Regions from separate parts of the Homo sapiens genome. Here regions 1 and 2 are each linked to region 3. Evidence: fine-mapped expression QTL. A gene starts in region 3. Each other region holds a variant in brackets. All regions are shown on one strand. Distances are from middle to middle. Region 1 overlaps TNS3 (tensin 3). Region 2 overlaps TNS3 (tensin 3). Region 3 holds the start of TNS3 (tensin 3).

What was found.
Region 1: its variant is fine-mapped to the expression of TNS3 in monocytes after LPS (Quach 2016, PIP 0.95). The same link has a PIP of 0.9 or more in monocytes after Pam3CSK4.
Region 2: its variant is fine-mapped to the expression of TNS3 in skin (TwinsUK, PIP 0.91).

What each region holds. Positions count from the first base shown.
Region 1 is chr7:47,478,843-47,486,849 of GRCh38, reverse strand. It overlaps TNS3 (tensin 3), which reads left to right. Exons shown (of 31, transcript NM_022748.12): 4 at 5,709-5,747. Among named protein-coding and RNA genes, the nearest start is that of SNORD151, 18 kb to the right of the region's middle. RefSeq lists enhancers at 4,312-4,859, 5,570-5,659, 5,432-6,113, 6,114-6,797. The variant A/G (reference allele first, on the strand shown) is at 4,585.
Region 2 is chr7:47,396,893-47,404,899 of GRCh38, reverse strand. TNS3 (tensin 3) reads left to right here. Exons shown (of 31, transcript NM_022748.12): 14 at 3,986-4,115; 15 at 4,442-4,507; 16 at 7,996-8,007. Among named protein-coding and RNA genes, the nearest start is that of SNORD151, 64 kb to the left of the region's middle. RefSeq lists enhancers at 1,262-1,770, 3,517-4,426. The variant A/G (reference allele first, on the strand shown) is at 4,272.
Region 3 is chr7:47,578,278-47,586,284 of GRCh38, reverse strand. It overlaps TNS3 (tensin 3), which reads left to right and starts at 4,174. Exons shown (of 31, transcript NM_022748.12): 1 at 4,174-4,234. RefSeq lists enhancers at 3,763-4,300, 4,301-4,838.

The sequences.
Region 1 (8,007 bases), 99 kb after region 3:
TACCCACACGGCTTTAGAGAAACTGATGGAAAAATGTCACTTTCTATATGGCTGTTTACAAAGTGAAATTTAATAAGAAACAACAATAAAAGCTGAGTTTGGAGTTTTATTGTGTTCATCAAAAGGAAAACAATGTCGGTCAAGCACGAGGAGAACTGAGTTGTCCTTTATTTCTCCCAGGACTTGGATCTCCCAGAAGTAAGCAGAGAGGGATTGGTTCAGGTTTGAAGAGTTGATCTCACTCCTTACTGAGGAAGATCTGCACCCGAGGCCCTGTGTCTGTTAGCACTGGGGGTAATGGTGGCCGGGCCAGTGCACCTTGGATGAAAGCACTTTCTAAGGCAGAATGTACTTGTTAGCTGAAGTGCTTTCATTCACCTTGGGGGATGGAACTGCAGGGCTAAGCTTTGTTGTGTGTGCACACACACAAACACACAGAGACACATACAGGTATACACTCACACACGGAGACACACACAGACACGCTCTCACATCAATACACACACATGAGGCATAGGCATACATAGAAACACACACAGACACACTTACAAAACTCAGTTTCACACATGCACGTTCATACATTCTCACAAGCACACACGCTCACACCCCCTACACTTTTACACTCCCATGCACATAACTACTGACTCACCCACTCATATGCAAACTCACAACACTCTCAAACTTACACACATTCACACAAAAGAATATATTTGCAGATATCCACAGTAAAATATACCTAGTCAAACACAGACACCACCACATGTAGTCACTCACACACACACACTCACCCACACACCCACACTCACACACCTGCACTCACCCCCACACACACTCACCTCCACACACCCACACTCACACACCCACACTCACCCACATTCACACACCCACACTCACACTCATCCACACACACATACGCTCACCCACACACTCACATTCCCAAGGACACAGTCATGACTTGGTGGCAAGCACTTGTCCCTCTGCCCCTCTGTCCTGTGGACCTGCTGGCTTGGGGACAAGGTTATTGATGCCAGTGTACCCAGGCACCCACGTAGCCAGGTGTGGGGCAGGCACAGCAGTGTTTGTTTGTGGTTTCCTTGGGAACAGTAGATTAGGATCCCAGGATAGCTGAAAGAAGGCAATAAAGAGGCTCCCAAACAGGCTTCTCAGAGGGGCCCTCGCCTCCACCATGGGAGGGACGGATCCCGGGGATGCCACAGCCCATGGCTTTTGGCCCACAGCCCATGACCCACTGCCTTCTCTCCAGCCTTCTGTAGCTGCTAACGGGAGCTGCTCTGCCCCCTTCCTTGTCTCACTGTTGTCACCTCTTGTCACCCTAATCCCTGAGGGAGCTGCTCATTATGAGAGAGGGTGCAGCTCCTATCAGGAGAGGAGCCTGGAGCTGGGGCACCAGCTGGAGTCATCTCTGGGAGAGTTCCCGTGGCTGGCGCTGGCCCTCTCTGAGACGCAGCTTCTCATACACAGAGTGGGGGCTCGCTGGCCTTATTGTGAGGGCTACAGAGAAAGACCTACAGACAGGGCACTGTTTCGTGTTTATCCAGCTGATTCGAGTCCACACATTGGATGAGCCGTGGGCCTCCCCAGGAGTGTGCCTTGACACAGGGAACGCTGCCTGGTTCTTGTCTCATCCTTTCACGCCCCTGCAGCTCACTCAGCATCATGTTACAGAGCAGGCAAAGCACAAGGCCAGCGGGTGCCCATCTAGACTCCTGGCCATGCCACCGCACACATCCCAGCCATGCTGGCTGTGCACTGATGGGGCCAGGCGCAGCTCAGAGGCTTCTGGTTGGCGTCTGCAGGACGGTCTCAGGGGATGCAGTGCACCGGGACCCTCCCAGCCCTGCAGCGTTGGGTGGCTGCTCTCTCTGAATAAGTCAGACTGGCATGTTAAGAACATAAGTGCTAAAGAAGTGTTAGCTTCTTTGTGCCGAGGAAGGCCAAGCCCACCTGGAGTTGGCCCCGACCCACGGTGCTTCCCTCTGTCCAGTGAAAACAGTGAAAGAACCCCACAGTGCTGGGGAATGTGTGATCAGAGCTGGAGTTTGAGGTGAGGAGAGCAAGCAGGTGTGCCTTACTCCCTTACCTGGCTCCATCCACAGGAGATACCCTCCTGATGCATGGGAGGCAGGGCAGCCTGTAGATCAGTGGAGAGCTGTGTGCGCTCCAGCAGGGATGCAGCTCTGTGCACGGAAGCACTGTGCTTCTGCCTCTGCTAAGGCTGAAGAACAGCAAGTGACACTTGACTGTCCAGCAAATGCAGCTGATAGCACCGTCGCACAGTCCCCATAGGTTCCTTGGTGCTGAGCAGGCCGGTATGAGCATCCCCAGCCCGGCCGCCTCATCCTGTGGTTCTGTCTGTGGTCAGCTTACCTGCCTTAGTATAAGGGAGGAAAAGTGTGACGGAAATACAGTCTCTTTTCAGGGACTTCCTGTCCTGGAATCTGGTTTTAGCCACATTGAAAGAACAAGTGCCCTCTGTGTTCACTTGGTCATGGTTTTTGCTAAATGAGATGTTTGTACTTATAGAAATGATGAGTTTTCTCTTTATCAACAGGTGACTCTTTGCTTCTAGAATGTCCCTTTTTCTCTGGTTGGTGCTCCATGTGCATTTTTATTTGCAAATCCACTCCCACAAAAGGTCTTTCCTGAGACATTTTTGTCTGCATTTTGTAACAGCACATGTGCAAACAGACAGTAGGGCCTGTGACTGGTTCTCTTGGAAGAGAGGAGCAAGTTCAGTAGGATGCGAATGTGGAGGCTCAGGGCAAGGCTGCCTGCCATTTGCTCTGCAGAACCTGGGGGCTGCTCGCCCCCTACTGTTCCCCAGCTCACTTTCTTAAAAACGATTCATTTTATGCAGTTTCTATTACGTGAGCCGTAAGCTCTGTGGGGTTAGGGACCAGTCTGCTTCATTTCCAAGTGAAGTCCTGGCAGGAGAAGGCTGTCAGTGAAAATGTGCAGCACAAGTGATGGATGGAGTTCGACAAGATTGGGCGTGCCAACTTATCGCGCGAGCCGGTTAGCCATATAAGCCGTGGATGGTCTGGGGTGAGATGGGACTCGGGCAGTCCCGGCTTACAGAGCTCACCTCTCCTTTTCTGTAGGACACCCTGGGGCCAGGCCAGGTGGTGGGCCGTTATTGCACCCCATCTGGCCACAGAGGGATGTGGGAACACACAGACCTGGCTTCTGGACCAAATCCTTAAGTGGCTGCCGTCTTTAAAACTCAAGTTTCTGACATTGCACAAGGCTTTTCTTTTCATTGTCTCAACAAACGTGTGCTTCCAGAGAGTGAATTTAAAAAATGTATTATAGACTGTATTTTTAAGAGAGTTTTAGATTTATACAAAAATCAGACACTCAGGCCAGGTATGGTGGCTCACGCCTGTAATCCCAGTACTTTGGGAGGCCGAGGTGGGTGGATCATGAGGTCAGGAGATCGAGACTATCCTGGCTCACACAGTGAAACCCCATCTCTACTAAAAATACAAAAAATTAGCCAGGCGTGGTGGCGGGCGCCTGTAGTCCCAGCTACTCGAGAGGCTGAGGCAGGAGAATGGCGTGAACCCGGGAGGCGGAGCTTGCAGTGAGCCAAGATCGTGCCACTGCACTCTAGCCTGGGTGACAGAGTGAGACTCCGTCTCAAAAAAAAAAAAAAAATTGGACACACTCTTCTTCCTCTTCATATATAAACATTTTCCATTCCTGTGGTACATTTGTTACACTTGATTAGCCAATATTGATACAGTCTTAGTAACCAGAGCCCTCGGTTTACATTAGGATTCTCTCCTGGTGTTGTACATTCTGTGGGTTTAGACAAATGCAGAATGACGTGCGTCCATCCTTATAGTGTCAAGCAGAATAGCTTCATGGCCCTAAAGAGTCTCTGTGCTCTGCCTGTTCCTCTCTCCCTCCTAATCCCTGGCTTTCACTGACCTTTTCACTGTCCCATAGTTTTGCCTTTTCCAGAATGTCACAGAGTTGAAATCATACAGTATGTGGCCTTTTCAGAGTGGCTTCTTTCACTTAGTAATATGCATTTAAGTTTCCTCTTTGTGTTTTCCTGCCTTCATAGCTCATTTTTTTTTTCATCATGCTTGACATGCCATTGCAGGAATGCTGATAGTGAGTTTGAAAGGCAGGGGCCCTGATTCTTCGCACATTTCTTGCCTGCATGTCACATGTGGAGTGAGGCAACAAGATGCATGTGTGCACTGAGTAGATACCATGCTTGAGGGGAGATAAGTCACACCGCTCTGTTAACCATGGGGTCTCCTTGTCCGGCTGTTTCCGCCATCCTGTAAGGTTTTGTCTGTGACTCCTTCTGTTTCCAAAGCTGTTTTTGTTTTGTTTTGCTTTACATTTATTTGTTTACTTATTCTCTCATCCATTCATCAAACTTTAAAGGGGCCCTGAGAGAGGACCCCTGCCCCAGACATCCGTCTGAGTCAGAGCCATGGTGGAGTAATGATGTGTCCCAGACACAGGAACGGCCATGTGTCACATACTCCCTGAGGACTGGACTGCGTAAGATAAGCAAGAGGCTATAAATAGTTATCCTGGTAA[A/G]AGCCAAGATTACGCCGCCGCCCACTCCAAACCACAAGTACAATTAGTCAGATCTCTGAGATTCTCTACGATTCTCCTTCGGTTGCACATTTTCAGAAAACTCTTTGAGAAGGCAGGTGCCAGGGATCTGGAGGGGGCAGTGCCAGGAGAAAGCTAAGGAGTGAGGTCACTCACCAGGAACTGAATCCTGTTTGCTGGCGCCTGGCTCCTGAGCGGCCCCCCAGAGCAGCGCAATGCCTGCCTGGCTCCCTTAGCCCCTGCCCTGTGCCACTCTTCTGAGCTCCTCACGCGCCATCTCTTAATTCTCACCATGACCCTGCCCGGAAGGCACTATTGTTACCTGCAGTTTTCAGATGTGGAAACTGAGGCCCAGAGAGATTAAAGGCCAAGGTCCTGTGGCTAGTAAGTGGTGGAGATCCTGCCCAAGGTGGGGTCTTTGCCCTGCAGGACTGGTGGCTCCCTGTGCCTGTTACTAACTGCCTCTCCTGACTGTGTTTGAGCCACCTTGCCTCCGTTACTTTCTTTATCTTTCCCAGGGAGCTCTCGGTCTTCAGAGACTATGGTGGAGTCAAAGTCTCCTCTCCCCGTCTCTTGTGCGGAATGGAATAACCAGGTTGACATTGCCACATTCAGACTCTTCAGTTCTACTTGTAGAAATAGTTCTAGAAAAGATGGCCCCTTGTGTAGAGAATGCATGCCCCTGGGTGAGGATGGGAGGAGTGGGGTCTTGAAGACCACCAGGCAGAGCCTTCCACCTCCTTCTCTGGGCCCCGCTCCCAAGCTCCCCAAGCACGGACCGACTCAGAGGTTTCCATCCTTGAGGTCTACCAGTTCTTTGTGAAAGTGGGGGCTAAATTTTGTATCTATGAGTGATTTGCATTTTTCTGGAAGGGGAGGCCCCATGGTTTCCATGACATTAGCAAAAATGACAGGGACTTTCCAAAAGTGAACAAAACCCTGGACTCTCTTAACTCTAAATCTTGTCAGTCTTGATCTGCTACAGCTTTGTAGCCAGAGTGAGGTTAGAGACAGTTTCATTCAGTCTTTGGGAGCCTGGCTTGATTATTATGCTAATTTTTTCCTGGAGAATCCATTTGCTTATCTGTTTCTTCTCTCTTTGAAAGGTGGTGATTCCCTGCGGTGTGCAAGTCCGACTGGAACAGGTAAGCCCTTTGCATTTCTTTGGCTCCCTTGTTCCATCCAAGAAAGGACTAAGTCCTTTCTTGAAGCTGCTCCCTCTTTGGGGATCTTTTGGCTTCCTCTAGGATCCATGCCCTCCCTTTGACCTGTAGCTTGCATTCACAAGGCTCTATCTGAGGTCCTTTGACCATGCTGCACTGGCCATTTGCATGGTTTTTTAGAGAAGAGGATCCGCTGCGCCTTTGCGGGAGCTGCCTTTCTATCAGTAATAGTTACCTTCGGGGCGAATCTCCCTGGGCCGAGTTTCCTTGGCTATAAAGTGAAGACAGCACAAGTCTGTTGTCTTAGTGATAAAAACCTGGACAGTGAGGGTGCCTGGGTCGCCAGGTGGCTGTGGACAGTGTAGTGCAGTGGTTTGTAGACTGACATCCAGCTCTGACAAATACTGGGTGTGTGTGTGTGTGTTCAAATCAGATTGAAGGTAAACACAATAGCACTTTCTCTTTGGCTTGTGATTAGGCAAATTTAAATTGCTGTCTGCTTTTCAAATGCAGCTCCTTGGAAGGTCATGGTACCTCCTGGTGTTTTCTTTGCCTCCATCCTTTGGAGCTGAGTGAGTGAAGCTTTGTTTCTGAGGGCTTATTAGCAGCTTGCAGGATAATTGAAAGGCTCACTGTGCCAAGACAGTAGGATACAGGACCCTCTTCTCTCACTGCAAGTCAGAAGCGACTCCCTGGGAGGCAAATGGGAAGCTGCCTCTTGCTGCTGGGGAAGTGTGTGCAGGTCTGGGCCTCCCCGGTGGGGCAGGGAAACAGGTGCACCCTGTGGTTCCTCCTGGGCATCTGTCAGGTGTGTTGTTCCCTGTACTTCTCAAGTAGGGCAGGGCTTTCTGCTCTTGGCTCCCCCTAGCTTCGCCATACACAGAATCTGGGGTGTTCTGCCGGAGATTTGGCAGCCTTTCTGGATTGTGAGCCTGGTGGCCTCCAGACATGGAACTGGCTAACTGGCTCTGTCTTGTGGTGCAGTAGGACATCCTTCCCCAGGCTCGGCCAGCGGCGCCCGTGTGGCAGCTTCCCTGCTTTGATGAAGTCAAGATCAGATCCTGGCTCCAGTGGCTGGGCCTTGCCCTTGCCCCCTGCCCATCTGAGCCTTGGTTTCCTCCTTTACCCAGTGGGCGTGGGGGTGGCTCTCTAACCTCATCACTTGAGTGGCCAGGCCCTGCCCTCGCCCCCTGCCCACCTGAGCCTCGGTTTTCTCCTTTATGCAATGGCCATAGAGGTGCTCTCTAACCTAGCTGCGGATGAGAGAAGAGGGACTACAGGGTCAGGCCTGTCACAGAAGCCTGGCCACAGGCGGGGTGCCCTTATTATGCTCCTTTTAATGCTGGCATGTGGTGTGGTCTCTTTGGTTCTGGAAGAGCAAAGTATGCATTTGAGGTCATAGGAACGTTAAAAATAAAATCTCACCCAGAAACCTAAAATATTGACAAACTATGAGAAACATGTTGCAGCATCAAGAGCTGAGGCCGTCCGGGGCGGGCGCCTGCCTGGCTGTCCCTGCTGGCCTCAGCTGTGTCCCCAGGCCTGTGGTCCAGTCTCACTCCATTCCTCCTGTGGCACTCACCGCCGACGGGGGGGTGGGGGAGTAGGGGGCGTGGGGGGACTTGGGAGCCTGTGTTTGTAGTTGGTTTTGACAGGCTGCGGTTTGTGACTGATTTCCTCAGGCTTGTCATAGGCCCCGGGAGCCAGGGGCTGAGGCCCAGGTGGCCCCAGAGCTGTGTGCCTGTCCCGAGGCCCTGGCTGAAGCCTGTTTTCCTGGTGGCAGCTGAGGCTCTCCCACCTCGCAGACAGTCCCTTGCCATCAGATTTGTTGGTGAGCCCTGGACATCAGAGGCACCAGAGGGCTAAAGCTGTGTGCTGGCTCTAAAGATGCCGGTTGCAGGGCTGTCAGACAGGCCAGAGCCCAAAGGGCCCATCCTGGCTGCTTAGATGTTGTCATTGTTCCCTCTGGAGCCCAGGGTCCCAGAGAGGAGTCTTCAGTCTCCTGGAGCACAGCCCTCCCCCTGCGTCAGGACACGGCCTCCCTGTTAACCTTTTCACAGGTGTGGTTGCTAAGAGATCTCGCTCTTCTAGCCCAGCCTGGCTCCTGCCCACTCCCCTTGCTGCTGCTCTGTGTGTGTGTGTGTGTATTATGTGTGTAATTGTTGTGCGTACAAATACATACATGTATGTTATGCATGTAGTTGTTACATGTATATGGATAGACATGCATGTTATGCATGTA
Region 2 (8,007 bases), 180 kb after region 3:
TTTATTTTTATTTTTTGAGACTGAGTGTCTCTCTGTCACCCAGGCTGGAGTACAGTGGTGCAATCTTGGCTCACCGCAAGCTCCACCTCCTGGGTTCATGCCATTCTCCTGCCTCAGCCTCCCGAGTAGCTGGGACTACAGGCGCCTGCCCCCATGACCGGCTTTTTGTATTTTTTTAGTAAAGACGGGGTTTCACCATGTTAGCCAGGATGGTGTCGATCTCCTGACCTTGTGATCCGCCTGCCTCGGCCTCCCAAAGTGCTGGGATTACAGGCGTGAGCCACCGCGCCCGGCCGGGCACAGGCATATTTTTATACCACTATTAGAAAATAAATTTTGGCGATGGTTTCTGAATTGCCTCATCAGACTAAAAGAAAGCAAGAGTGCTTACAGGCCTTCCCATTGAGATCATCATTCACCCTATATGTTTTTGAGTACCAAGTGCCCTCTCTCTAGAAGCTTATGCCCTTTAAATAATATATTCATATAAATATAGCATATCATTATTGGATAATGAATTATATTAATATGTAGTGCTAATTTAATCTTTATAACAACATAGCCAGGTCAATATCATAATACTCATTTTGCAGTCAGAGAATTTAAAGTCTAAAGAGGCTGCAACTTTCTCAAGATCTGAGTGCTCCCAGCGATTTGTGATGTCAACATCACACCCACGTACTTTTGTGGTTGGCTCTATGATAGCATGGTGACAGGCTGTGCGCAGCCTTTGTTGTGGTGCTTGCTATTTCTTATTTCATTTTTCTATGCTACAAAATTGTGACTGCACATCTTTGAGTTGTTATTTTAAATGCAGATATTCTAAAATCTGAAGGCAAAGGATCAACATATTCTAGAAACACTCTGGGGAGACCCAGGTAAATAAAGTTAAAGCCGGAGGGATGAAGGGAAAATTATAGACTTGAATCAGTCTAATCTTTACGAAATGTTTGCATTACTATTATATCTTAAAGGGAGGCATTTGGGGGCCCTCGTACCAAGTACCATGTTGATTGTTCTTTCTGTTAAGTATTACAAGCATAATTCTGATCTCTTGCCATTGCTCCTAAAAAGATTTGTTGATGTAGATAATGCATAATTATTGCACACTATGGAGGGCTCCTGGTTGGTGAGTGGATTTTGTCTCAAGATCTGACCTGCTGTGTTGATGGTGGTTGCTGGGAGCCCCGAGTTAGGGAAAATCCTGTGGTTTTCCGTGTCTTTCAGAAGAAGCTGGAGTCAGTTCATGATTTGGTCAGGAGGACTGGGGAGGGTGGTGTTTACCTCCATTAATCAAGAGGAAAGAGGTTTAATATGAAACAGGGATTGTGTATGATGAGGCCGTTAGGATCTCAAGCCAGCAAACAAAGTTAGCATTAAAATACACAGAGAAACCCCTGAAGGGAGGGCCACGTGATTTCAGGCAGCAGTTGTTCTCTGCCAGTGGGATAGACCGCTCTTTCTTTCACTGTGGAGCCTTAGGAGTATTTGAAAGCTTGTGCTGTGAAAAATAGGAATCTTACAGGAGAATCATATGGGGCCTGGAGAGGAACCTGTTTGGGACAGGCCGATTCCCATCTCCTGCCACTCTGTACCTCCTGGGCACCGTGGCCTGCCTTCTCCTCCCTTCTGGTATGTGGAGGGAGCTGGGATTGCTGCGGGAGGAGCAGTGTGTTTGTGTGTAGCTGCTATGAGGAGCAGTGGGGGGACCTGGGGGAGCATCCTGGATTCCTGAAGAGGGAGGGCAGGACCTGGCCTGGAAGGAGGCCCTGCGCTGGGCGGGGCGGTACTGACGGGAGGGGCACGGTGAGCTGCGGTTGGGGATATTCCACTGTGCCCCTTATGTGGCCCGTACTGGAGCCCACAGCTCCCTCTGTTTTCACCCAGGACACTCCCTGCCTGCCAGGACTGAGCCCACAGCTGCCTCCTGAGGAGTTTCCTGACTCCTGTGGGCAAATGTTGGCGCCCATGGCAGCACAGGCTGCGTGAGCTATCAGCTGACATCGTGTTGTTGTTTTTATTTTTTTAAATCTCTGGTTCCCTTAAATATTTATAAAATTTGAGAGCAAGACTGGCTTGAATTGGGGCATCTCTTTTCCTTTTCCCTTCCCTAACCACTTTTCACTCCCCATTTGCAAGGCACTAGTGGAGGCAGACAGGCACATTTGAAGGCAGACAGGGAAAGGTGGGTGCTATCATCTCTATCAATGGGGGTGCATGTGTGGATTTACCCTTGGCCAGAAGGACCTCCCTCTGGGGATCTCTACAATATGCCCCAGGTTGAAGCATTTGATGGGTGGTCAGTGTAGTGAGTGTGGGGCATGGGGAGCTCAAAGGAGGGGCCCAGATACTCTCAGAACATCCTGGAAGGATCCCTGCAAGGGCAGCCTTTGATTGAGTCTTGCTGAGAAGTCAGTCTCGGACAGAGGTGGTAGATTTGTGGCCAACGTGCCATTGGCTGTTGGAAAGCAAATTGAGGCAACATTTCTTCACAATGCCAGTTTTCTACTTGCAAACGCCCTGGTTCCTGGGCCCCTGGAGGCCAGGCCTGAGTCTGAGCCCCATGTTTACAGCACCGCTGGCCAGCGCCAGGCCGTACAAGGGAGACCCAGTCATGTTTGTCAACAGGGAACATCCTTCCACAGTCTTAATTATATTTTTTTGGTTTATTTACCCGTCCCTTTCCTTGTAGATAGCACAAAGGTAAACATCTTCTGGGTCTGCCTGGAGTCACAGCTCCCTGCCTCCTGGGCTGGGTTTCTGGGCTTTTTGTTCCTCTGGTGGATGTTCATCTGGTTAGGGAAGACCCTCCCTGCAGAATTCTCCCGCATGCTGGTCCGGATCATACCTGCTGCGGTGGCTTCTCATTTACTGTTGTGAGGCATGTGATATTTTAAAGCCATCTTTCTCCAAGAAAAGTCTCTTTTATGGGAACGTGGCTGTCTCTGGTAGTCACTACCCCACAGCCTCGGGGTTGGGGAGGTACCTGCCTGTGCACGATTTGGTCTGAGAGCAGAATCCAGCCTGTCCAGGGCCTTCGGCCTTCTGGGGATTTGGGAAAGTGCCACTACCTGGTGGTCCTGCCCCTGATCTCTGAGTGAGGGGTATCCCTGTCCCTGCAGCTCCCCCAGCTGTGGCCTGAGAACCCTTCCAATGATGCCAGTGCTGCGCACGGTCACAAGAAGCAGGGGGGACCTAGTTATACAGGCAGGTCAGGACACTCAGGCTCCTGCTCTGCCCACCGTTCCCCACATGCCAAGCATCTGCAAGGAGGGGCTTGCTCTACCCTTTGGCTCATTGGCACAATCATTTAGGGTGCTTGAGCTGCACCCTGGGGACCTCATGAACCCCAGCTTGAGTTCAGATCACATCAGGGTGATTCTGAACACTTGTCTAAATGCCAACACCCTCTCTGTCTCCCTCTCTCCCTTCCTCCTTCTTTGTATCTCTGTCTCTAAATTACAGCATGCACATAATCATTTAGGATAGTACACACAGTAATGACCGGCTGCTGCTTTTTGGAAAACAAAAAGCTTTAAGTTGCAACATGGAGCATTGAGATCAAAGAAAAGCTATCACAATCAGTTGTTAAAGTCTAGAAAAAAGAGACCATGGAATTCTATTTTTCGGATGTGTTCCAAAACAGGGCACATTCACGTGGTCTGAAAGGGTTTAGGTGTGGCCTCTCTGAGGACTAGCGATAGTGGTGTTCAGAGCTGCGGTTCCACAGGAGCAGCACAGGGAACACATTGAAGCCTCCAGTGGAGCCCCGCACCCAGCAGCAGCAGTGTGGTGCCTCTGCCTGCACCCCAGCTGTCTGCAGGCGCCTGTGCCCCAGGGCTGAAGTTCCACTCCAAAGCGTGAACTCCCAGCCAGAGTCCAGAGGGGAGGCCCTGCTGTGCCGGCCTCCGCGGAGTGTGTTCCTTGCCGGGAACGTGTGTCCCCCGCTGCAGCTACTTTGTTTTGTTTTGTCTCTCTAACCCAGGTGAAATGCTACCACAAGAAATACCGCTCGGCCACCCGTGACGTCATTTTCCGCCTGCAGTTTCACACTGGGGCTGTGCAGGGCTACGGGCTGGTGTTTGGGAAGGAGGATCTGGACAATGCCAGCAAAGGTGAGGCGCGGAGCTGGCGGCCCTGTGCTTGTGGGCAGCTGCGGTTGAACCTCCTTGGTTGATTCTTTCACTATCCCCTTTACCCTCTTTCCAAAATTCAGCCTACTGACAAAATTGTTCCCAAAGTAGGAGAAAATGATCATTGATCCCTGGGGG[A/G]AAAAAATTATGGATAACCAATGAAACTGCCTATACTTTCTGTATCATGGGGTGTCTTTATTGCAGATTTGGGAGTGGTGCTGTACTGGTTGGAATAAAGGACAAAGTCAGTCCATACTTTTCCGGTTAATTGTCTCCACAAATGTGTTAAAATACATTGTTTTTTTCAGATGACCGTTTTCCTGACTATGGGAAGGTTGAATTAGTCTTCTCTGCCACGCCTGAGAAGATTCAAGGTGGGTAGCTTGGTGGAATACTGGGTGGTCCTTGCTGACACTGGTGAAAGGTGCATGATGGCTACGCTGGGGCTGTAGTACTAGTCTCCTGCCTTTGTGCATATTTGGAGATTTCTGTGATTAATTTTATTTAAATGTAGGATATTGGATAGTGGAACAAGAAGGCCCACTTGTGTCAGTAAGCCCCAGAAGTGGCGTGACTTGCTCACAACCACTCAGCCAGGAGAGCCTTGGGCATGACTGGCCATTCTTGTAGGAGTAAGGTGGTATTGCATTGTGGTTTTAATTTGCATTTCTCTGGGGGTTAGTGATGTTTAGCATTTTTTCATGTGTTTGTTGGCCATTTGTATATCTTTTGAAAAATGTCTGTTCATATCATTTGCCCACTTTTTGATGGGATTATTTGTTTTTTTTTTTTGAGGATTTGTTCGAGTTCCTTGAAGATTTTGGATATTAGCTCTTTGTCAGATGCATAGTTTGCAAATATTCTGTCTCACTCTGTGGGTTCTGTTTACTCTGATGATTATTTCTTTTGTGGTACAGAAGATTTTTAGTTTAATTCGGTCCCATTTACTTATTTTTGTTCTGTTGCATTTGCTTTTGGGGTCTTAGTCATGGATTATTTGCCTAGGCAAATGTCCAGAAGAGTTTTTCCTAGGTTGTCTTCTAGACTTTTTATGGTTTCAGGTCTTAGATTTAAATCTTGGATCCATCTTGAGTTGATTTTTATAATATAAGGTGAGAAATGGGGATCCAGTCTTATTCTTCTACATGTGGCTAGCCAGTTTTCCCAGCACCATTTGTTAAATAGGGTATTCTTTCCCCAGTTTATGTTTTTATATGCTTTGTTGAAGATCAATCAGTTGTAGTCAGTTGTATTTCTGGATTCTCTATTCTGTTCCATTGATCTGTGTGTCTACTTTTATACCATGATGTTTTGGTAACTATAGCCTTTTAGTATAGTTTGAAGTCCAATAGTGCGATGCCTCCAGATTTTTGTTTTGTTTTGTTTTTAGGATTGCTTTGGCCATTTGGGCCCCTTTTTGGTTCCATATGAATTTTAGGATTTTTTTTTTCCAATTTCGTGAAGAATGATATTAGTATTTTGATAGGAATTGCATTGAATCTGTAGATTGCTTTGGACAGTATGGTTGTTTTCAGTATATTGATTCTTCCAATCCATGAGCATGGGATGTGTTTCCACTTGTTTGTGTCATTTCTGATTTCTTTCATCAGTGTTTTGTAGTTCTCCTCGTATGGATCTTTCACGTTTTGATTAAGTATATTTCTAGTTTTTTTTTTTTTTTTTTTTCAGCTGTCGTAAAAAGAATTGAGTTCTTAATTTGATTGTCAGTTTGGTCATTGTTGGTGTACAGCAGTGCTACAGATATGTGTACATTGATTTTGAAACCTGATACTTTACTGAATTCGTTTATCAAATCTAGAAGTCTTTTGGAGGAGTTTTTATTGTTTTCTAGGTATATGATCATATCATTGGCAAATAGCAACAGTTTTAATTCCTCTTTTCCGATTTAGGTGCCCTTTATTTCTTTCTCTTAGCTGATTGCTCTGGCAGTACTATTCCAGTACTATGTTGAATAGAAGTGGTGAAGGTAGGCATCCTTGTCTTGTTACACTTCTCAGGGGGAATGCTTTCAACCTTTCCCCATTCAGTATGACATTGGCTATGGGTTTGTCATACATGGCTTTTATTATTTTGAGGTAAGTCCCTTCTATGCCTAGTTTGTTGAGTGTTTTTATCATAAAGGGATGCTAGATTTTATCGAATGCCTTTTTCACATCTACTGAAATGACATATGGTTTTTGTTTTTAATTCTGTTTGTATGGTGTATCACATTTATTGACTTCTATATGTTAAATCACCCCTGCTTCCTGGGATGAAATCCACTTGATCATGGTGTATTATCTGTTTAATGTGCTGTTAGATTCAGTTAGCTAGTATTTTGTTGAAGATTTTTGCATCTATGTTCATCAGGGATATTTGTCTGTGATTTTCTTTTTTGTTTGTTTGTTTGTTATATTCTTTCCTAGTTTTGGTATCAGGGTGATACTGGCTTCATAGAATGAGTTAGTTAGGGACAATTCCTCTTTCTCAGTCTTTTGGAATTGTTCAGTAGGATTGGCACCAGTTCTTCTTTGAATGGATGGTAGAATTCAGCTGTGAATCCATCTGGCCCTGGGCTCTTTTTTATTGGCATTAAAAAAATTATTGATTCATTTTCACTGCTTTTTACTAGTCTGTTCAGGGTTTCTATTTCTTCCTGATTTAATCGAGGAGGGTTGTCTGTGTCCAGGAATTGACCAATTTCCTCTCAGTTTTGTAGTTTATATACATAAAGGTGTTCATAATAGTCTTGAATGATCTTTCGTGCTGGTTGTAATGTTTCGTTTCATTTCTAATTGAATTTATTTGAATCTTCTCTCTTCTTGGTTAATCTAGCTAATGGTCTATCAGTTTTGTTTATCTTTTCAAAATACCAGCTTTTTGTTTCATTGATCTTTTGTATTTTGTTTCAATTTCATTTAGTTCTGCACTGATTTTTGTTTTTCATTTTCTTCTACTAGCTTTGTGTTTAGTTTATTCTTGCTTCTCTAGTTCCTTGAGGTGTGACATGAGGTTGTCAATATGTGATCTTTCAGACTTTTTGATGTAGGCATTTAGTGCTATAAACTTTCCTCTTAACACTTGCTTTGCTGTATCCCAGAGGTTTTGATAACTTGTGTCACTATTATCATTCATTTCAAGGAATTTTTAAATTTCCATCATGATTTCATCATTAACCCCAAAGTAACCAGCATTTTAAAAAGAGAATTAGAAGTATAGTAGGCTGCAAGTATTATGTGCGAAACAATTTTTTTCCCTAAAAAATATATTTCAAAAGAAACCAGTCCCTTTATCATCAAGGTGAATTGTCCAGATCCATCACCAAGATCCACATGCATGGGAGTTTTGTTTCCCTTTTTAATAGCTGTGGAAATAATCATGCTTTTTCTATGTTCATTGTCATAGATTTAGGCAAAAACCTTTAAATACATGGCTTGTGTGTTAAAAATCCCCTTGGTATTCCTAAAAAGACTTGAAGGGAGGAGTGTGGATCTGAGAGCCTGGAGCCTGGATTCAAATCTGTGGACTCTGAGGCTCAGAGACAGCTTACCGGGCCTCTGTGTCCTCATCAGTGAGGTGGTCTGAAGACTCGTTTTGCAGAAGTGTCCAAGCCTGGTTCACAGTGGACGAAAGATCAGTGCTTACTTATCCCTTCCCCCTCGTGGCTTTAACTATGGTTCTAGTTGTGGAAAATCCTCCACAGTCTCTGATTAGTGTTGTGGCTCCTGGCAGGAGGGTGGAGGATGGAGAGGCTTCTCTCTCCTGCTCAAGTCAGGCTGCTCACCTGTCCTTATGGTGGAGTCGGTTGGATGGAGGTGATGGGTTTCACTGGGACTAATGTTGCTGCCTGTGCTCTGTGCAGGGTCCGAACACT
Region 3 (8,007 bases):
GGTGCTGTATTAGGGTTCTCCAGAGAAACAGATCCAATAGGGCATATGCAGATCTATAGAAGAAATTTAATTAATTAATTAATTCATTTATTTTTGAGACAGAGTCTCACTCTGTCGCCCAGGCTGGAGTGCAGTGGCGCATTCTCGGCTCACTGCAAGCTCCACCTCCCGGGTTCACGCCATTCTCTTGCCTCAGCCTCCCGAGTAGCTGGGACTACAGGCTCCTGCCACCACGCCTGGCTAATTTTTTTTTTGTTTTGTATTTTTTAGTAGAGACAGGGTTTTACCGTGTTAGCCAGGATGGTCTCGATCTCCTGACCTCGTGATCTGCCCGCCTCGGCCTCCCAAATTGCTGGGATTACAGGCGTGAGCCACTGCACCTGGCCTAGAAGAAATTTATTATAGGAATTGGCTCACACAATTATGGCTCACACAACTATGTCTGCAAACTGAAGACCCAGGAAAGTTGGTGGTGTAATTGCCAGTCTGAGTCCAAAGGCCTGAAAACCAGGAGCACTGATATTTGAGGGCAAGAGAAAATGAATGTTCCAGCTCAAGAAGGAAGAGGAAGAACTCACCCTTTTTCTGCCTTTTTGTTCTACTTGGGCCCTTGAAGGACTGGATGGTGCCCACCCACACTGGTGAGGATGGATTTGCTTTACTCAGTCTACCCATTCAAACGCTAAGCTCTTCCAGAAACACGCTACCCACACACCCAGAAATCACATTTTACCAGCTATCTGGGCAACCCTTAGCCCAATCAAGTTGACATCTGACATGAGCCATCACAAACACCAAGGTTATGTAAATTCCGAAAAGGTTCTGAGACACGGAAAAGCTCAGGTGCCTCTAGCCAGGCCTGGCAACTGTAAAGCCCACTTTGTTGAGCTGTAGGTGAGGATTCGTGTGTTTGGGAAGAGAAAAAGGAAGAGAGGAAAGGGCCAGGTGTTCTAGTAAGAGTCTCAAGGGACTTAGTATCTTTTTTTTTTTTTTTTTGAGACAGAGTCTTGCTCTGTCACCCAGACTGCAGTGCAGTGGTGCGATCTCAGCTCACTGCAACCTCCGCCTCCTGGGTTCAAGCGATTCTCCTGTCTCAGCCTCCTGAGTAGCTGAAACTACAGGTGCGTGCCACCACTCCCAGCTAATTTTTGTATTTTTAGTAGAGACGGGGTTTCACCATATTGGCCAGGATGGTCTCGATCTCTTGACCTTGTGATCTGCCCTCCTCGGCCTCCCAAAGTGCTGGGATTATAGGTGTGAGCCACTGCGCCCGGCCGAGACTCAGTATCTTAAGGCAAAACACAGGCATTTGCTCATGTTCCAACTCCACAGTTCTCTGAATGCGCTGTAGAGCTTTGTAACTCCATCCTGTGTAATGTTTCCTGCTGTCTCTTTCAGTTGGTCTTTGGGAAATATTTTCAGTGACAGAAAGTAAGAAATAAGGAAAAATATCCAAGTCCTTGCTCATATACCTCCCTTGATCTAGGGATACAAATTCAGATTTTTGCGGTGGCAAAGACAATCTTCATTGCAATGACAAGCTTCCAACACATCTTCTAAAACTCCTACAGGGGAGGAGCAAGAATGAGTCTGCAAAGAAGGGCTCAGGGAGGAAGGAGATTGGCGGGAGTTTCTTGCCCAGACTCCCCTGCCCTCTGCTTGGCATACTAGGAGGGAGAGGCCACTCTTGGCATATTGCTGCTTTTTTTTTTTTTCAGCTAAATGTTGGAGACTTTTGTTTTCAAAGTTGAGTTTTTTTTGGATGGCTAAGGATGGAAAAAATGCACATTCCCTTTTTCAGATACTGGTTCATGCCCTGTTTTTGTTTAATTTCTTGGAAACTTGAAGTTGCAGCCTGCGAAGTGGGGAGGCCCTGGGCTGGGGAAGCGAAGCTCTGGAAGGGGCCCAGGTCCCGATTGGGGATCCAGAGAGGCTTCCCTTCATGTGCCTCTAGACGAGGTGTGGGGAACCCGGGGAACAGCCATCCCAGCCAACACAGAGTGCGTGGGGATACTGGAGCCCGGTTTTTCTTCTCCTTTCTTGGGACACTGCCAGGGAATATAACCACAGACACTGCACGAATGAGCACCCAAGTCACAGTTTTTCTAGAAACAAAGGTGTGGTTGGGGCATCCCATTCCATTGCTACCCCAACAAGGGCAGTGTGGCCGGTGGGGCCATCTGGCTTGGGTGTGGGTAGCAGTTTGGAGAGATTTTAGAAGAGGCTCCCTGACAAAGGGTCAGAGAACCCCAGCACTGCACTGAGTTTTCCTGACTGTGAGCTCTCAGACAAACAACAGTGTCACCTCCTGTAAATGGGTGCCCTAACACTGCAAGAAGCTCAAATTCATGTTGTCATTCAGCCAACATGGTTTTTGGCATTATGATGGTTTCTGTGATGCACAGAATAGCACGTAATTGGCTCTGGGTGTGAAGATCACCACGGTCTTAATGGAAGAGAGGGTTGAGCAAAGTGATGATTTAGTCCAATTGCACAGAGTGGATGGTGTGGGCAGGCAGCTGGGAAGAAGTTAAGAGTAGCCTCAAGGCCAGATAGTCCTGATCCCTCCCACTTTCTTCGCCTGACCAGGTGGGTGACCTTGAACAAGTTGCCTAGAATGTCAGATCCTGTTTCCTTATCAGGACAAAGGAGATCGTAACAGTACCAGCCTCACCCCCATTCCTAACCCAGCTGGCTGTGACCTCCTCCCCACCTTCCCCTATGGCATCTTCCCTGGCACCCCTTGACTCATCTCATTGACTCTTGACCTGGTGTCTCCTAGAGTGTAGGAAAAATGCCTGCCTCATCTCTAGGGGCTGGGGCATGGTGCTCATGAAGCCTTTGCCTGGGAATAAATACCCAGATCAGTCTGGGGATGAGAAATGACACTACCTTCCAGAGCACAGCAGGGGTTGTTCAAGTCTTCCAGAAAAGCAGCTCTTGTTTCTCCTCATGTGGTGGGAGTGGAGTCAGAGCGTGGCTCAGGCCCCACATTCTCAGCTGTTTGGATCTGGGGACTCGAAGTTTCTGGTGGTTACTTCTGAAAGTCTTTTCCAGGATAATTATTCTTGCTCGGTTTCTCTGCCATCTCTGACAGGCTGTTTTCCCTGCTTCCCCCGCTGCCCTGAAGGGGCCAGAGGAACAGGGCAGGACCCCAGGGCTGCGGATGGGTTAGGCAGCTCTGTTCCCGAATCCAAAGCAGTTCTTGGTGACTGTCCTCCAAGACTTGCCCTGGACCCTGCTCCGGGTGGGATTCTGAGACCGCCTGCTCCACGTGGCAGATGAAATCTAGGTCTCTTCTGTGAGAGGCTGGCGGGGAGGATGTTTTCCTGGAAAGGACCACAGGACAAACCGCTGATGAAATTTCTCTTGTGACCTCCCTGGAGGAAGAGCACTTCTGATTTCTGCAAACTTTTTCCATTCCCCCGATCTCACAAATGGGGAAACTGAGGCTAAGCGACTGAGTTCAGGGCCATCTGAATCTCAGGGATGGACAGTCAGGATGGACAACCTATAGGCCTTTCCTCCTCTGAGAATCTCTCTGCTCGGGATCGTTTTTCTGGTTTCCCCTGGCTTGCCTAAATTCTGCTCATTTGTCCCGGCGCATTTTAAGAAGTCATGTGACTTCTAAAGACTTCCCTGACCTCCTCCCTTCATTAGCTGGGTATTTCAGGGGCTTCTACGGCACCCTAGGCTTTCCGGAGCGGCTGTGCTCCTTTATGTATGCGCGACTCCCACTAGGCTATGAGCTACAGGAGGGAGGGTAGGTCTTGCTCCCGGAGAGCACCTTAATCACAGGCGCTGAATGAAAGAATGAACTGGTTGTGCAGGAACCAGGATCCGAACCCGCCTCCCCAGGTACTCTAACACCGGCCCGGCGGAACCTGCAAGCCTCCAGACCACTTGGAGCCTGGGCTGCTCAATGGGTCTGATAATTCCAGGTCCTCTCTGCGGCCAGCGAAGGGAGGTCCCAGGGCGCACCTCGGCAGGGCGGGGGACCCCGGTGAAGGGCGCCTGGAGGCGCGCTGCATTGTTAGGGTGATGAGGCCAGGTGACCCGCCAGGCTCGGGGCGCGGGCGCGGGGGCCGGCCGTGGCGATTGCCCGCGCCGCCTCGAGGGGGCCCTGCCGCGGGCGCCGGCAGCCAGCCAGGAGGACGGGCCCGCCCGCGCGCTACTCGGAGCCCAGCCTCGTTGCGGCCATCGCCCTGCCGGACCGCGCCTCAGGCTCCCCCAGGTACTGGGGCCGGGGAAGGAGGAAACGCGGCCACGCGCCGCGGTCCTCTTTGTTTCGGGCCCGGCGCGGGCTTTCGCGCTCCGGGCGCAGGAACGAGGCTTGGGGAGCACAGAGATCTGGAGCTGGGGCGCGGGGACTGAGTTCGGGGAGCGCGGAGACAGAGTTCGGGGAGCGCGGGGTACGGGAGCTCAGGGCGCGGGGATGGGGTCACGGGAGAACCCAGGTTAGGGAGCGCGGGGACCCGGTTGGGGGCGCACGGGCAAGGGGTTTGGTGCGCGCGGGTACGGGGTTTGCGGCGCGTGGGGGGCGGGGGCTCGGCAGGAGTCCCAGGACAGGGGCTGGGGCGCGGGCCAGCTTCGCCGGAGTCCGGGGACGGGGGCGCTGACTGGCTGGGTTTGGGGACTGGCTGGGGCGCAGGACCACTCGAGTGGGACCCGTGGCGCCCGGGCGCCCTGGACTGAGGGCAGAGACCGGAGCAGCTATGTCGCAGTCGCTGTCGGGACCGAGCGGACTTTGCTCCCTAGGACTCCGTCTCGAGACTCCAGGTGGAGAGCGCAGCTAGGGGCTTCAATGGGCAGGCTCAAGACCCTTCTCCTACTTTTTCTAGGCAAGCTCTCCAGTGCGTCTCTTTCCCTTTCCCTTTGGTGGGTGGGAGGCAGGGGGTCTTTACGCGCTTCCTTTTTTTCCCTGAAGGACGGGACCTCGGGGTGGGGGGATATTCTGGGGTGGGGGGTGCTGTCCCAGGCTGGGGGCCAGCTGTGTGGCATGTGCCTCCTGGCACGCGGGAGCTGTCGCTGACAAGCAGGAGGAGGGAGGGTCCCGGACGGCCCAGGGGTCTCTGTGTCGGTGCTGTGCAGCGGCCTGACATGTGAGTCCCGGGTCCTTTGCTTGGAGTGATTTGAGTGTCTGTGGCGGGAAGAGATTCAGGCGTTCCTCAGGCATTCTCCAGACAGTGTCAGCAGATGACCCGAACTCCAGCGTGGTTGAAAAACTCAAAGCGCCATCAGGGTGTGGGGCCAGCAGAGAGCACTACTGAGGGTGGTCACAACCCCCTGGGAAGCCCCCAGGCTTCCTTGGGGCGCATTCACACACTTTGATCTTCCGGGTTGGCTTTCCCCCCATTTTTTTCACTATTTGAATGCATGATCATGGAGGACTCTGAAAATATACTGAAAAGTATGAATGCAGAACTCATTGTATTAATATTGCATGGCCCTTCTGAACTAACCAACCCTTTGACATTTTAGATTTTCTTGAGGCTTTGGTCTGTGCATATTAATTTTTTAAATTGCTTTCATGCTTTCCCTTTTGAATGAGGTTTACTTGTTCTGGTGATTCTGGTTCTTCTCTCTTTGGGGCCTGTGAGGTTATATTTGCAAATCAATCAACAAGTATTAAGAAAGGCTTTTCTGTGCTGAGGCCTTGAGGGCCAGGGAGGGGGTGGGGAGTCGCTGCAGCTGGAGGGTGGAGGGGCAAGGCCATTACACAGAGATGGAGGTGCACTGGGTCCTGGTGGGGGTGTGGTAGCACAGGGGGTGGGGGGTGTGTACACAGGGAATTGACAGGAGGAACTGGCAGCAAGCCCGACTCCTGACCTTAGGAATAGTAATGGTGACCCCGAAGACAAAGTAACAGGCATACCGATTGAGTGTTTGCCTGTGCTAAATGCTTTGCATGCATTCATTTCATTTCACCCAAATTACATTCCTTGGAGGGAGTTGGGATTATGATTACCCCATTTTACAGACGAGTAAACTGAGGCAAAGGAAGGCTAAGTAACTTGGCCGAGATGAAATGAAACATGGTGGTAGTGCAGCCTGGGATTCTGGGACAGGACTCTAGGGTCCCAGACCCCTGTTCCTGGCTGCTGCTGCGCGTCTGTCGACTGAATTCTAATGCATGTCCAGACAGCGATTCCTCAGCTGAGGCTGCCATAGCTATCAGCAGCTCAGCTGAATTATGTCTTTAAAAAACTACCAAGATAGAAAAACTAGTAGCCCCAGGGCACTACTTATTCCTGAATGCAAATTGATTTTTTTTTTTTTAACAAAGTGTCTCTTTGGCACCTAATGTTTTGAAAGTGAGCTGTTTGCAAATGTGACTCTGGAAATAAAGGGCAGGAGAGGGGGTGTCAAAGTATGCTCTTCCACTGCAGGAGGTGTTGCTGAAGGGGATAGCAGAGACCTGAGGAGGAGGCAGTATGGCAAGAACAGTGAGTGGAAGGGCTGACCTACCATTTGGCAGTCGCAGCTTATATCTGCTTAGGACTCTACACAAGGACCCATTTTACAGATGAGTAAAATACCAAGTAAATTCTTAAAGTCTGGGAACAGTTAGGGATCTGAATGAGCCCAGTTCTCTGACTCTATGTGCCCCATTCCTTTCTTAAGATCAGCCTGTTGTAAACCACCCCTGTTCAGGGGAAGCCTCTTGTTCCCTCCCTGTGTCCCTGTGTATGAACTTGAGAGGGGGAGGAACTTTCCACCTTCCTGAGGGCAGAAAGCATTGTTTAGATCCCTGCCACTTACTAGGAAGCCAGAGACATTTGCTGAGTGCCTCAGCAGCACGCTTAGAATTGAGGCTTCGAGGCTTCCTCACAGCGGCCCCCATAGATTTCCCAGGGAGGGGCCTCCTGTCTTGCGGGTTGATCTGGTGGGTTTGCCCCATGCAGCAGGAGCTATCATGGGAAGGGTGGGTCTGGGCGTCTGAAGCTCTCCAGGAGGTCAGCTGACCCTGGGACCCCGGGTCCTTCCTGTAGGACCCCAGAAATCACTGGGGAATCAGCTAACCCCTGCAAGCTGTGCCTGGAATGACCTAGAGCCAGTCCTGTCTACCTAGAATCCTCTGCTGCTATCCTTGTTGATCTAGAATGAGGGATGCTGGTTAGTTGGTTAATTAAGTAGGTGGTTGATTAACTTAGTTACTCTCTTCCTCACAGCAAGAGTATTAAAAACCATCACAACATGGAACACAGTTCTTTCTTTCTGCCCCCACAGTGAAGGGCGTGTTGCGTGGCTTCATCTTCACAGGGATCATGGCTCACAGTTGTGTCGTTTCCACGCTGCCTCACTGCTCCTAAAACGCTGAGACAAGAAAAATCGCTGCCACCAAAATGCTGCTGAGCAGGACTAAATTCTCCTAGATTGAGGGCGTTTTGAATCTTAGAGTATGTTGAATCCGGATGCAGGCCCGTGTCCTGCCGTGGGGCTTTTCGAGTGCAGCTCGGGCAGGAACAGTGGTTTCCTTGATGTCTATCCGTTTCTCGTAAAAGCAGAAAACTAGACTCTCCAAGTTTCGTGAGCTTTCTGTTTGTACTCTGTGACTCAGGAATGTGTTTGGTACACATCCATCACTGCAATGTGGGATGTAGTGCTGAGCTCAGGGTCCCTCGGGTGTCTCCATTGTCTGCATGGCGGCATCTCCTGTCCTGCTCAGTGTACTCCAGGAGCACCGTGGCCCTCTAGACACACCTCTAACCACCGCCCCCCCCCAACCCCCTGCCCCATGCACCTGGCGCAGCTCTACCTGGTATCCCTCACCTGTTGCCTCCTACCCTCGCTGGGAGTTGCCTCTGCGAAACAGGAGGGAGGAGGCCAGTGAAAATGAGGGTGACTGAGGATGGGGGCCATCAACTTGGGGATGAAGCACTGCACACAATTTAGGGTCCCTCGGAATGCCTCACTGTGTCAGGGAAGGGGAGGATTCTCACATGCTTCTTTTTATTTTTTTATTTTTATTTTTTTGAGATGGAGTCTTGCTGGAGTCCAGGCTGG